Homo sapiens: one gene and its partners. The protein of the gene in region 3 purifies or fractionates together with the protein of the main gene of each other region. This does not show direct contact. Each region holds a gene or a part of one and is shown on either strand. Other genes may lie near its edges.

Evidence for each region.
Region 1: the proteins of ZNF750 (region 3) and ZNF185 purify together in Homo sapiens (affinity purification with mass spectrometry, with the first as the bait; one study listed by BioGRID). This does not show direct contact.
Region 2: the proteins of ZNF750 (region 3) and ZNF516 purify together in Homo sapiens (affinity purification with mass spectrometry, with the first as the bait; one study listed by BioGRID). This does not show direct contact.
Region 4: the proteins of ZNF750 (region 3) and LRBA purify together in Homo sapiens (affinity purification with mass spectrometry, with the first as the bait; one study listed by BioGRID). This does not show direct contact.

What each region holds. Positions count from the first base shown.
Region 1 is NC_000023.11:152,918,567-152,922,134, forward strand, and holds part of ZNF185 (zinc finger protein 185), read left to right. Parts: intron 1-416; coding exon 417-515; intron 516-1,761; coding exon 1,762-1,845; intron 1,846-2,140; coding exon 2,141-2,182; intron 2,183-3,568. UniProt on the Homo sapiens protein: May be involved in the regulation of cellular proliferation and/or differentiation.
Region 2 is NC_000018.10:76,362,727-76,366,294, forward strand, and holds part of ZNF516 (zinc finger protein 516), read right to left. Parts: intron 1-3,568. UniProt on the Homo sapiens protein: Transcriptional regulator that binds to the promoter and activates the transcription of genes promoting brown adipose tissue (BAT) differentiation.
Region 3 is NC_000017.11:82,829,956-82,833,523, forward strand, and holds part of ZNF750 (zinc finger protein 750), read right to left. Parts: intron 2,682-3,568; 5' UTR 2,500-2,681; coding exon 1,064-2,499; intron 923-1,063; coding exon 187-922; 3' UTR 1-186. UniProt on the Homo sapiens protein: Transcription factor involved in epidermis differentiation. Required for terminal epidermal differentiation: acts downstream of p63/TP63 and activates expression of late epidermal differentiation genes.
Region 4 is NC_000004.12:150,847,739-150,851,306, forward strand, and holds part of LRBA (lipopolysaccharide-responsive and beige-like anchor protein), read right to left. Parts: intron 3,165-3,568; coding exon 2,986-3,164; intron 1,838-2,985; coding exon 1,684-1,837; intron 1,261-1,683; coding exon 1,080-1,260; intron 1-1,079. UniProt on the Homo sapiens protein: Involved in coupling signal transduction and vesicle trafficking to enable polarized secretion and/or membrane deposition of immune effector molecules. Involved in phagophore growth during mitophagy by regulating ATG9A trafficking to mitochondria.

The DNA of each region.
Region 1 (3,568 bases), on a different chromosome or scaffold from region 3:
GCATTGTGTGCCTAAATCTGAGCTGCTTCTTGGATAGAAACCTTCGGGTTTTCCCTTAGTGCTCCCCTTGGGGTCCCTTTCAAAGCCCCCCACCCCCCACTGCATGCTCAGGGAGGAGGGTTCTCTGGACAGAGGTGTGAATTGTGTCTCTAGTTCCCAGGGGACCACATCTTTCCGTTGTTTGTCCCTTGCCTCCATCATCCAGGGTTGGGGAGCTGCTGGGTAACCTTTCTGGGGAAGGGGAGAGGCTCGAACAGGGAGGGAGGGGAGAGCTGGTCTCAGGGAGGAACAAGTGGCATGACCTAAGGCCCAAAGGCAGAGATATTGACTTGCCTCGTCATTGTTGTTGAAAGCCAGGAAGCCAAGCTGCTGAGGGTGGCAGCCTATGACAGGAAAGCGCCTCTCCCCTCTCTTAGGGCACCCTACAATATCAGGCGCAGCTCTACATCAGGGGACACCGAGGAGGAGGAGGAGGAGGAGGTGGTGCCATTCTCCTCAGATGAACAGAAACGGAGGTAATGGAATGGTGCCTTTTGGGCATCCCGGGGGGCAGGGCAGGAGCCTGAGTCTTCGAAGACTGCTGGAATGAATTGTACTGGTTGGGGTGACAAAATGCACAACACGTAGGCCATCAGCGGTAGCCCACGGAGCATGAGAATAGGTGTCATTCTCTGAGTGCCAGAACCACCCACTCAGTGTTGGACCAGCTGAGGGGCCCTTGAGAACCTTCTGTGGGGTAGAACCTAGGTAATGTGGGTCCGGGGAAAAGCCTCCTCATGTGGAGGCTCTTCAGGGCTCTAAATCGGTTTGTTAGAAAGGGCCCTGAGACAGTTGAACAAAAATATTCAGGGAGAAGCCACCTGCACAGTGCCCTCTATCTGCATGATCTGCATGCCTTGGGGGTTCTGAATGCCCCGGACCCCAAACTGAGCTCCAGGCATGCACAGCAGTGGGAGTGTGCCCCATGCTGCTGAAATTCTACCCTAGTCTCTGCGCCAAGCTGCCCTCGTCCACACAGGCCAGCAAAGTTCCATGGACCCTTGCCCCTCCTCAGTCCTCTGTCCATGGGGACTGACCACATACCACCCAGTGCTGGTGAACTATGACAGGAAGGGTTTGTTAAGCACCTTTTGTATGCCTTTGGCTTGGGGCCTGTACAGCAGTTGGGCCCTGAGGAAATAAAGCCCTCCCCTCCCTGGGCTCAGCCAGCCACCAGGTCCATATCTGCTGACCCATCTGTGGCGCAGGAATCACAGCAAAGCCCCATTGCCAAAGGCCCTGGCAGATTGGCTATCCTCAGGGAACAGTTCACAGTGGCAGGGGCCCCCAGGCCTGGGTGGAGCAAGGAAAAGAGCCAGAAGCTAGGAGCTGCCTAGCATTGAATGCCAGCTCTGCCACCTGCTAGGTGAGTGCTCTTGGGCAAATAATGAAAGCTTCTTGGACTCAGTTTCCTCATCTGTAAATCACAGAGGATACTAGCGTCTACTTTCCTGGATTGAGAAGAGCAATAAGCCAATGCGAGGATGTTGGCATCTGGCGCAGAGCCGGGCACATGCCACATGCTCCATAAACATGGGCTGCCCTTCCTTCAGGTTCTACATTTCCTTTGAATAGTCCTTGGAGCAGGTGCAAATCTGGTTTCTCTCACCCCTTGCCTCCCTGGGGTGGCCCTAAGTCACCCCGAGTCCATCCCAGGCTAGGCTGGCAGAGCATGTCCAGCTTGGCACCCATCAGATGCTCCCCCATCCCGTGTCACCCCAGGTCAGAGGCTGCAAGCGGTGTTCTGAGGAGGACAGCTCCCCGGGAGCACTCCTACGTCCTGTCAGCGGCCAAGAAGAGCACTGGGTGAGTTGCCACCAACTGGCTCCAGGCTCTAGGACAGCTCTCCTCTCCTCAGAGCTCCAGCCTTCTCTGGCTGATGAAAGGGTGGGTGGAGAGATCACCCCCAAGGGCCTTCCTAGCTGAGCCTTCTCAGATTCTCAGATGTACTTTCTAGAAAATGGAGAGGTCTGGCGGCTACCACCAGGGACAGTGAAGTGCCGGGAATGGAGAGGGCCCAGGACCCTCTGAGGTAGAGCGGTCTTGATGTCACCTGCCCACGGGCTCTGCCCAAAGCATTGCCTTTCTGCTTCCTTTCCAGCAGTCCTACCCAGGAGACACAGGCACCGTTTATCGCGAAGAGGTAAGTGTCATCAAGGGACACCTTGGAGGCCTGTTACTGGCCACAGGAAGGCCTTCCGTCAGCAGGGGTGTAGTGTGGGAGCTGTGGAGAGGGGATGTGGATGTGGGGGACTACTGTCCCTGAGCAGGGGGAGTTGTGAGGGGCTGGGGGCTTCTGTCTGGAGGCCTGGCAAGCACCTGGGTGGCTGTGGTAGCATATGTGGTCAAGCTCTTCCATTTGCCAATGGCTAATGGGGCTGGGCCCCTGACCCAACGTGGAGCATTTCCAAGGCCCTCTGGGAGTTGTTCCCCTGCCCCTGTTGCTTGCCTGATGCCTTGCCTTCTGCTCTCATCCAGGATCAAAACCTGGGCCATCAGGAGAACTTCCCCTGGGAGGTGACTGTGACATTGGAGATGGGCCCTAAAGGGTGAACAGGGCTTAACAGGGAATGATCAGAACGTCGGGATACTCCAGCTGAATGAGGGAGGGGTGTCACCATTAGTTGAGACAGGGCACCTTCTGGAGGAGGAAAATATTCGGGGGAAAGCAAGAAAGAAACTTCTGGAAACTTGAATTTGAGGGACTTCCAGTTGAGTGGACAGGGAAGGCCTCTCTCTGTGCTGAGGTGGCTAGCTGGGGACTGCAAACCCAAGAGAAGACAGCATGCCAACTGCCCCAGGCAGAGGGCCCCAGTGCACAGGCCCGGGGTGGGACTAGCTTGCTGTGTTGGAAGACCAGGAAGTTGGCAGGAATACAGAGAGCAGGGATGGTGGCAGCACAAAGGAAGTGACAGAGAACGGGGGGCGGTGGGGGGGTCTTCCTGGCTGCATTTGGTTCCTGTGGTTTCTGTAACGCAGTACCAAAAACTGAGTGGCTTAAAACATCAGAAAGGGATTCTCTCCCGGTTCTGGAGACCAGAAGTCTAGATCAAGGTGTTAGCAGGGTGGGTTCCTTCTGGAGGCTTTGAGGGAGAAACCATCCCAGGCCACTCTCCTGGCTTCTGCTGGTGGTTGGTGATCCTTGGTGTTCCTCGGCTTGTACCTGCATCACTCCAGTCTGTGCGTCTGTCTTCACATGGCCTTCTCTTCTCTGTGTGTCTGTGTCCAGATTTCCCTCTTCTTACAAGGACAGCGGTCATTGGATTTAGGACCCATCCTACTCCAGTATGACCTCATCTTACCTGATTACATCTGCAAAGACCCTATTTCCAAATAAGGTTACAGTCACAGGTTCCAGGGGACATGAATTTTGGGGGGACACTATTCAACCCAGTATGCTGTCCTTATCCTGAGCTGGAGTCACTGAACCCCCAGCCTGGGCCACCTCTTGGCCGTGATCCTGAAGGGTTGGGTCAGTTAGACGCCACTGGAAGCATGTTCTTTGAGGCCTCCAAGCTCTAGGGCAGCC
Region 2 (3,568 bases), on a different chromosome or scaffold from region 3:
TTCATAAAATGAGCAGCAAGTATTTCAAATGTGCCTTCCTGCCTTAAAGAGAGGCAGCTTGAAAACGAATCATTTCCAGTGTGATTTAGAAAGGATCATTAGGCTTCTCTAATGGTTTCACATGTAAGAATGGCAGATGATAGTGTCTGAACCAGCTCTGGAGAGAAGGTTACAAGTTGGCAAGATGAGGAGGCGGCCAGATTGTAAAACTGTATAGTACAAAGCAGATTTACAAGTGAACGGTAGTTCCAAAACAAGGCTGAATTTGGGGGTCATACAAACAAAAAGAAGAGCACGGCTCTCACGTAGGTCTGTCAGAACTTCAGAGCGTGTTCACCCATTTCCATAAACAATTACCAAGTTGGAAAAAGGGAAGGAGTATTCTAAAGTGAACTGCGAGAGAAAACCAAGCATAAATGGGGGTCCACAGCTTTCAGAGAATGCTCTCCAATGACATTTGAAGCATCCCTGTTTGAACAATAGCATTTACAATCTGAGGACAGAAACAGTATGGCCAGATTAATCTTACTTAACTGCATTAACCTTCAGCTAAAATCTTGATGAAGTGAAACTGACCAGTGGAAATTAACATGCATACATAAACTAAGGGACTCGTGTAAAATTCTGTTTCCAGCTATGCCTATAGGAACCCCAGAAATAATGGCGGAGTGGGGGAAGGTCTGGTTGACATAATGAATTAAGGGCTTTTCTTTAGTTAATAGTTCCAGAAAACTCCTACTTACAGCTGGCTCTGTGTTTGTGACATCTACCAGTTGGCATGTAGTGGAAGTCAGAAAGATACTGGACAAAATTTTACGAGGGGTTAGGGGGTGGGCAAAGTGGTGGAGACAGCAGTTTATTTGAAATGTAGGAAACAGTAATGGAATGAGAGATGTGATAAAACTTCCCTAAGTAGATGGTGAATTTCCTGCAGTAAACGGACAAAGACTGTTTTACATTTTTGTACAGTGACGTCAGGCCGTGAAGACATCTCTGAGGTTCTGATGGGAAATATTCATCATCAACAGGGCTCACTAAGAACCAATTCCAAATACATTCTGGAAGGAAAATGGTCTTCGTGTTTACCAAAGAAAACTGGGAGTTATAGTTAGCTATTGGGTGTTTGGCCTTGACCGTCTCTGCATAGCAAACATAGACGTCAGGGACCGTAAGAGGCGGGCAGGGGATGCCTGTGAACACAGGTGCTGTGTGTGCCTAGATTGCACATGGACAGCACCCCCAGGGCACATCCACCTGGGTAGCTCTTCTTTTGGACCAGAAGTCACAGACTTGCATTGGGTTAGGCATCAATGGACTGTTCCAGAGGCAACAGGAAGACGGCCCTCCGTCCATGAAGGGCTAACGTTTTATATTACAGGGCTCAGAAGGCTTTAAAAATATTTATTTTGGAAGCACTGCAAAGTCGGGATAAGCCAAACAACTAGGTGGTTAAATTGTGTTCACAAATCCAGATGCAGAGACGCCCATTTTCTCTTCATAACTGAAGGGATGTGTTCCAATACCTCATTTTTTTAAGATAGTTGCTTTAAGTTATTGATTCACCGGAGGCCACCATGTTATTATTCAATAAAGCAGCCCTAGAGCATTTTTAAGAAATGAATAAAACAGGGAAGAAAGGAGGCAGAGAAATATTCAAATTAAGTGGACACACTATAATCTTTTGAGCACGCCCACCATCGCCTTGTCTTCCTGGAAGGGAAAGAGTAGTCAAAACATGAGAAGCTTTCGGAAGATTTCGCTTTTCTTTTCTGCAGCTGTGAACTGTGGGCTTTTCAGTAATGCTGAAAGACATACTATCTTTCTTGAAGGTATTTCAGTGTTCTAGGGATGGATATTGACTACTGGGACTTCACGAGGTCCACTTTCTCTCTTTCTTTTAGTAAGGCAAGGGAAATGTGTATGTAGTGGTGGGTGTGGATCGATGCCCCGCACACAAAAAACCTGCCATGCCCCAGGACACACGGGGCACCTCTCGGCCTTCAGAGGGAGGTCAGCCTGTAAACAGGGCTTGTGGTCAGCCACGCAGGCAATGCTAAGTGCCTGAGGACCAATTATGCACAATGCTTTACTGACTAAAACCTTTACCCAACAAACCATAAGTAAACAAAGGCTATGTGACTGGGGGGATTTTGGGTAATTCGCCAAGTCTAATTCATGATTTTTGGTAGCATATTATATTTAGAGAAAATGGAAAATGTGTTTTAAGATGCTTGTTTGGTTTAATAAATAAGAAAAGCTTAAGCAAATGAGCTGAATTTCAAACTCTGATCTGTGATGCTGAGACTCTGAAAGTGATACTGAAAATAGATTATGCATATATTCAAATGTACCAACCTACGTGATTTCTCCATCATTTGCATTATAATAGCCACAGCTAAAAATGAGACAAATTAGGTCGCCATTTGTTTTTTCATTTCCTGTTATTTTGATTAATGGAATTATTTATCCAGCTTAACCATTTTAAAATAACATTTAGAATAATAAGAAATAAACTATTAATCATAGTCTTTAAATTCTGGCAAGGAATCCAAACAAATCAAAACACCAGATTTCATATTTCAGCAGACATTCTGGTCTTTCAATAAATCCCAAAACCACGAGGTTGGGGTGAATAATTTTTCTTGGTTTCAAAAATCATTTTAATTTCTAATGTTTAACAACAATGCAACAAAAAAAATCAATTTCTCTGCAACACTAAAGAAACTTCCTAGTTTTTCCTCTAACATCCACAGGACAAAACACCCAGATTTCAACATATTGTTTTCAGAAAGTGTTCTTTCTAATGATGAATGCTGATGATTACTAGAAATTAAACATTTATTCAGTTGTGCTAAATGGATGACCAAGCATCTTTTAAACGACAACATGCATGAGCTCTTTCCCTCATTTAGAATTTGATTTGGAGGATCAGCGGTCCTTGATATTGGAACCATCTTAATCCAAAACACAGTAAAAGCACCAAGGACAAGCACCGGTGCCACCGCCGGGCTGGAAGAATCACCCACAAGAGCGGATGCCCTCACAGCTGGGCTCCTGAGGCCCAGGGCCCGGACCCTCTCACCATCTTCTAGCTTGTCTACGATCGAGGCAAAAGAGTGAGATGCCTAAAGGGGTGTGCTGTGAGCATCCACAGCCTACGGGAAGCCCTGTTATTTATCCTCCATCTCTGCCTTCCAAGGCTCCAGGCATCCTTTCCACCCTTACCACCTACCAAAGGAAGGTGTTCAGAAAGAAATGGCTGCTTGACTATCTGGTTTTCATAACCTCCTCTACAGTCTTCAAGTATGTGTATATAACATGGAAGAGGCTTAAACAGTGCGTGTGCTGAAAAAGACTGCCACTAGTGTCACCACGAAAGGAAACTACTTTATTTCTCTTCAAGCTTCAGGTGTGTGCTGATCAATTAAACTGACTTTAATTATTTATTCCTGATTCTAACCTATGGTGAATTTAATCAATTTCAGCAGATTTACCTGGCCCTCGTGCCTGTTGAATTGTTTTGCTGAGATAGACGGTATATCACAATTTCTCAGAATTTTCCAGTATA
Region 3 (3,568 bases):
ATTCATGCTTAATATTTATAAAAACTGAATTGGAGGGTTTTTTGTTTGTTTGTTTGTTTGTTTTTTTGAGAAGCAGCAGCTGCATTTGTAAAAATGTGAAAGTGCCAGTTCAGAGGTGTTGTAGCTTGCCACCTTGGAAGGCGTGTGTGTGGCCGTAGCTCTGTGAACACACGTGTGAACCCGGCGTTAGGACACCCGGGCCCTCCTTCGTAGTGTGAACACTCTGGCCGTGTCCTGCAGCTTCGCCTTCTTAGCTCCTTGCTGGGATTTTCCAGCATCCCTTAGACTTGTCCTCTTTTGTCCTTTGGGTCTGAGGTCACACTGGGCCTCTTGGCTCTCCATGGAGCTCAGTGTGGGTGTGTCTTGCCGGCAGGCAGGTTCCGGGGCCGCAGCATCCCCATCGCCCACCCGGATGTTCCTGGGGCTGTAGGCCGCCAGCTGGCACAGGGCCACGGCTGCCGTCTGCTTCTGCTCCTCGCTGCTGTCCACCGCGCATGCGTCTGGAGCCTCCTCGCCGGGGCCTGTGGGTGGGGCCCCGTCACCGTCGAGGCTGCCTGGCTTGGTCTCAGGGTGGCTGGGCCCATCCTCAGAACCTTCTGTCCCAGTCTTCTGTGGAACAGCAGCAGCAGGTTCTGCAGCTCGTGGTCGACCGGGGAAGGCAGGCCTCGGAGCCTGGGTGTTACAGGGGTCCTTCACCGAGAGATTGAGTGGAAGGTCCTGCAGCTCTGAGAAGCTGGCGGTTTCCGCCTGGGGGCTGCCTTGGTACGTGGGTTCGTGGGTGGCTGCCAGGTTTATCTCTGATTTCTTGGAGAGGTTGAGGGGGCCCATCCCGGAGCTGTCGTCCGGACTGGAAGGCGCGGCCTCCGAGACGAGAGAGGCGCTTCCGGTCGGAGCAGGAGGGTCTCCGTTCACAACATTGAGGCTAGAAGAAGCCAAGAAAAAGCTTAGTAGGAGCTTGCTTAGAAAAGCAACTGCGTGAAGCAGTGTGAGCAAGTATAAGCCTGGCTCATGGAACCCAACCAGAAACATTCCCTTGGAGGTTTTGAAAATGACATTTTCTTACCTTACTGGAGACTCTGCTGTGGTCTCAGCAGCCTGGGCAGGTAGGCATTCTGTGCTTTTCTTAACAGGCCTGAAGGCTGTGAGGCTTTGCTCTGGCGGGTAGAGTCTTCCCAGTGCGCTGGAGGCTGCCTTGTTGGAGAGGTCGTACAGGCCTTCGCAGGTCTGGCTCGTCTGCATGAAGTCGGTGGGGCTCGGCCTCCCTGGGGAGCCCGTGGCTGCACTCCCTGCGCGGGGGCTCATTTTGGACCCTTCCGTGTCTCTCTGCCCAGCCTTGGAGGAGTCTTTAGCCTCAGGAATTGGACTTTCGAACTCGACGTGTTTTCTGTTGGGGTCCGAAGGGTTTAACCTGGAAGGACTCGAGGCTGGATAGACCAGGGTGGCTTCTTCAAGCAGGTGAGAGCTCTGATCTCGGGTGAGGCCAGTGACAGGTGGGAGTCTGAGACCATAGGAGGAAAATGCAGACTCTGGCCTGTAAAATCCGTAAGGAATCGGCAGGTTAGAGGGATATTGCTGGAAAAACCTGTAGTGATCGTATGTGGCTGGAGATGGAGCCAGGTGCTTAGGGATCGGCCCCGGGTGAGGCAGGAAGTGTCTCGGGTCTTGGGTTCCGTAGACTGACAGCAGGGGTGCGTCACACTCAGGCGAGCTCCCAGCCAGCAGGTAAGGCGAGTAGATGGTGGCCAGCCCGTGCTCTGTGTAAAAGTGAGGCGGGTACTCTGGGATTGTGGGGTGCATGTAAGGGGAAATGGCCCCAAGCCCCTTTGTAGATGAGATTTTATGTGGAAACTCTGGTGGAAGGAAAGGTGAGCCGGCTTTCCAGGGGTAGCCAGGAGTGTGGAAGGCCGACTTGGTGTGGAAAGACACGGCCTTGGCAGTGGGGTTGTGTAAAGCCAGTGTCTCGGGCGCCTCGGCGTTGTCTGGCCCCTTGAGTCTGTGCTCGCCGACTGGAACAAATGCAGAAGGCCGAGCTGCGCCTTCCAGAGCAGGCTGGGCACCGAGGGCGGCTTCCGGAGCTGGGCTCTTGCAGGGTGATGCCCTGTGGAGGGCTGGCTTCTGTCCCAGGCACCTGTGGGTTCCCCGGGCTTGCAGCTCCAGGTTTTCCTTGATGTCTTCCCTGGCAGAGCTGTGCTGAAGCTTCGAGTCGAAGGCAGAGAGTCCATTTGCGACAGACTTGGAAGAGGCTGGCTTCGCCGTGGCATCGGGCTGGTTGGTTTGCTTGGGGTCTAGTGAGTTAGATTTAGGGCACTTGGGAACTCGATCCTGCTCTGATACTAAAGTAATCGAGTTTTTACAAAGACCATACTTCATGTGATTAAAAAGATGTGACTTCTCATTGCAAGTAAAGGGACATTGGAAACATTTATACTTGAAGGGCTTTCCTGGAGGCCTGGGGATGTAATGTGGCTTTTTTGGCTTCCGCTCTTTGAGGAGACTCATTTTCCTCCTTATGCCTTGGACTCTGGCTGTCCAGGTGGCGTGATCACTGTCGACGCCGCGTGCACTTCGTGGTTTCTAAAGAGGCACCTCCCGCTTTGCTTTCTTTCCCGATCACTTCTATCAGAAGCCAGCTCTGCGTGCTGAGGGTCTGGCGAGAGCCTCCGTCATCTGGCGGCTGGGAGCTGTAATAAAGAGCAGTCTTGGTGTCAGGACAGCGAGTGAGGGGTCGGCGAGAAGCCGGCCTCGGCTCGCCACAGTGCCACAGGATCCCTGAAGCAGAACCCCTGAAGGGCTGAAACTGCCTGCTCCTGAGGGGAGCAGCTGCCGGTCACAGAAGCAGCCCTGCCCTACCCTTGGTAACCTGGCTGCTGACTCCCCACCGTGTTTTCTGTTTTCTGAGTCTGATCTGAAAGAGTCACCTCGGGGCCTAGAGGTGGAGTGTGGTGTGTGGTGCGTTGAGTGTCTGTTCTGAGAATGCCTGTAAGCCTTTGAGTTTTGGGAACTTTCATCCTGTGACCTGGACCTTTCCTCGAAAGCGCCCTGCCGGGGGCTGAGGACACCGAGCCCCCTCCCAGGGTCTGGACAGAGTCCTGTCCCAGGGCTGCCCGACTCTGCTTGGGGGTTACACGCTTGAAGCAGTGGGTGTGTGATCGGCCACACTCTCACGTGAAATACGAAGGGGTTTGTGGCTGTTTCCCCTTAACATGTACCCACAGTCACAGAGTGCCCCTCACTTTTACACAGAGCGTGGGCTGGCCACCGTCTACTTGCTCCTACCTGCTGGCTGGGAGCTCTCCCAAGTGCTGTGCGCCCCTGCCGTCGGCCTGTAGAACCCAAGACCATGGATGCTGCTGCCTCCCCTGGGGCCGATCCCTAAGCACTCGTGGCAGTTTCTGCCCACTTTAGCCACGTCGTTGGTGTATTCTAGTGTGCTTGTTTAAAAATGAAGAACATTCGAACACAAGACTCTACCCTACTGCTTCTAAAGTCAGCTTTATCATTAAGTAGCATTTATGTTGTCTCAGATATGAATACAAATGCTATATTTATGTTGACTTAAATGGTTGAA
Region 4 (3,568 bases), on a different chromosome or scaffold from region 3:
GTTTTGTTTTTTGCTTCACCTAAGAAGTCCAGTTAACATTAAAAAGTCATTTCATGTATTTTTACTTTTACTTAGGGAAGAAGTGTTTCCAGGAGAAGAACAGAGATTTCATGATTTTATTAACTGCATTAACAAATTACCACAGCTTTTTTGAATAAAGGCTGTACTTGAATGATGCTAGTTTAGAACGTTGTTATTCCAGTGTGTTTGTAAGAAAAGCAGCATCAACATCACCTGGGACTTGGTAGTCAATTTTAGGCCTTACCCTAGACCTCTATAACCCTTTTTTTTTTTGAGACAGAGTCCCGCTCAATTGCCCAGGCTGCAGTGCAGTGGTGTGATCTTGGCTCACTGCAATCTCCAACTTCCAGGTTCAAGCGATTCTGCTGCCTCAGCCTCCCAAGTAGCTGGGATTATAAGCGTGCACCACCACACCTGGTTAATTTTTGTATTTTTAGTAAAGACGGGGTTTCACCATGTTGGCCAGGCTGGTCTTGAACTCCTGACCTCAGGGGATCCACCCACTTTGGCCTCCCAAAGAGCTGGGATTACAGGTGTGAGCCACCACCCCAGCCTAGACCTATATAATCTAATCTGCATTTTAACAAGATCATCAAATTTATGAATCACCTTGTGTTTTTTAATCACCTTAAGTTTATGTATCTCCTTAAAATTTCAGAAGCACTACTTTAGAGCAAAAAGAGATAGGGGAGCACCTCTAATTCCAGCTACTAGGAAGGATAAGGAGGCGGGATCACTTGAGCCCAGGATTTTGACACCAGCCTTGGCAAGAAAGCAGAACCACCATTTCAGGGAGAAAAAAGAAAAAAAAAAAAAAAAAAGATAGGGGAGAGTGGAAACTCCTGACCAAAATCACCTTAGTAAATTTTTCAAAATACATCCTCCTTCTTGCCCATCCAACTTACCAACTACTACTATGTACATTAAAAAAAGTAACCATATGACAAATTAGCTAACATATATTTTCTCACCAACAGAAGACGGATAATTTTCAATGTCATCTCTGAATTACTGAAAAATTTTTTTTAGTAAATTCCCAACGGTTTTTAGCAGCTCACCTAGTCGGAGACACTGCCGCAAAATTCCTCCAGATGACATACTTTTTTCAGCTTCAATTTCAGTAAAGCCAAGAGAACTTGCAAATATAAGCACATCCACAAGGCTAATTAGCCTCTGCAAAAATGTCACAGAGGCTTCTATTGAAAGGCCTTGAGTAGGTTCAATATTTTCCAGTTCATGCTGTAAAGAATAAAGTTTGACATTTATATATATATATTCTGAAAAAAAAATTTTACCAGATATAGTCCTAAAATTTATAAATTGCATAAGTAGTCAGACTTTCAGAAACCTAGTAACACAGAGTGATTTATACTTATTATTTCATCTAAAAAGGGTGGGGGATGAGGAGGAGCAACAGAACCATACAGGTGAAACATCATGAACCACATTCTTCACTAGCTGACTCATACTTAGGGAATCAACATTCTTTTAAGTTCTTTCATTACTAGAACAGATTCTAAGGTCCTCTCAAGTAAAAGATCCTATTGTTTTTTATTTATAGCACCTACGATGCATAGTAACCACCACATTTAAGTTTTAGTCAATAAAGTTGCATAACACTCATGTTTTCACACCAATTTTCTATAGTAATTAAGTCCTTACTGTAGCCGATGTAGCAGCTGAAAGCAATGGCAGTATACCCCCACAAGCCATGACCATATTGTCCATCACTTGAGAGATGAGATGAATTGTGTTGTGTACAAAGATGACATTATCACTGCTATTCACGAAGTCCATAACTGTCTTTGTTGAATGGCTGTCCAAAGATAAATGATATTTACTGATAAAGCTAAAGAAAGGAAATCACAGTTTGCCTACTTGAGGGGAGGAAAGATAAGAAGGTGCTTTTGCTTCATCTTGAAAACTGAAGGAAGATGATGCAGCAGGCATTTGGAGGGTGTATACTTCTTCAGAAGAAACAGACCATTCCATATCAGTAGTTACTATCCATGCCCTCCTTCAGTGCTGAAACATAAATACTATTCATTTTACACTGGATATAAAAAGTTGAAGAAAATTATCCTTACTGGGAACAAAACTAAGAAATCATGTGACAAAAATTAGGAGGTAAATACTGGTAAATGTGCTATTAAAAATGAATTTTCTTCTGTAATGCCTATAAAATGCTTTTAAACATAACAAGAATCTTACACAAATAAAAAAAAATAAATTAGGTCACTTTAAAATCATAAATCATACAATGGGGGATAACTTGAAGTACACAGATTTTTTTTAATGCTAAAAATACATTGGAAATATTGATAATGTTATAACAATTTTTTTTTTTTTTTTGAGACAGAGTCTCGCTCTGTCGCCCAGGCCGGAGTGCAGTGGCGTGGTCTCAGCTCACTGCAAGCGCCACCTCCCGGGTTCACACCATTCTCCTACCTCAGCCTCCTGAGTAGCTGGGACTACAGACGCCCGCCACCACTCCCAGCTAATTTTTTTGTATTTTTAGTAGAGACAGGGTTTCACCGTGTTAGCCAGGATGGTCTCGACCTCCTGACCTTATGATCCGCCTGCATCGGCCTCCCAAAGTGCTGGGATTACAGGCTTGAGCAACTGCGCCCGGCCTATACCAATTATTTTTTAATACTTCTAGTAATAAACCAACTTGATAAACCTACCTTCTGGTGAATTCCGTGCCATAAAATTGCTACAGGAAATCTACTACAAATTTTTTTAAAAGAGAAACCTCTGCTTTTCACATTTTTGTAATCCAGATAAGGATTCCATTCTTATAATGGAGAATAAAAGTGAATTCAGTAAAACCCTACCATAGAATAATTTCTATTCTACTTTTTAACCAAATGTCTGAAATTAATTACAAACTGTTTCTATGGATTTCTTTGAAAATAAAGACTAGGTTTATACACATCTTCCATAATAAACATATAGACAAACCTTCTCCACATCTGTATATCTGTTTCTATTGAAAATAATAGATCAGTGAGCAAACGTTGATGCATCTGAGACCAGTTGAACTCAGGAATACGAAACACAGTAGATCTGGAATCCCTCCTTTGTCCATTAACTGCATCTGGTGCTATTCCTTGCCCTGGCTGCTCATGTTGCCTTGATATCTAATACAGAAATTTAAAAAGTAATAAAATAGGTTCAACTTCAGCAGGAGGCTTTAGCAAAGTAAATAATTTAGTAGCTTCTATGCAATTCATCTAACACGTTTTTAAGACACTATAAGAACCAAATTAGAGAAAGAAAAATTATCAATGAGTAATAACATTAACATTTTAGTACATGTAAGCAAAGCTATCAAAAGTGCAAAACTACCACAATTTAAAAGTAATTAACTTGGAACCATGTTAAGTATTACCACTATGTAGCATTTTATAAAAGAATCAAGTAACAGTTCTTAGTTTTTAGCCTTAGCCTAAAAGAAAGGCAGTATTTAGAATCTAAGTGGCATTTGGATTATGAAGTGGCTAGAATGAAGAATAAAAACAGAGATAACATAATGAAGAACCAA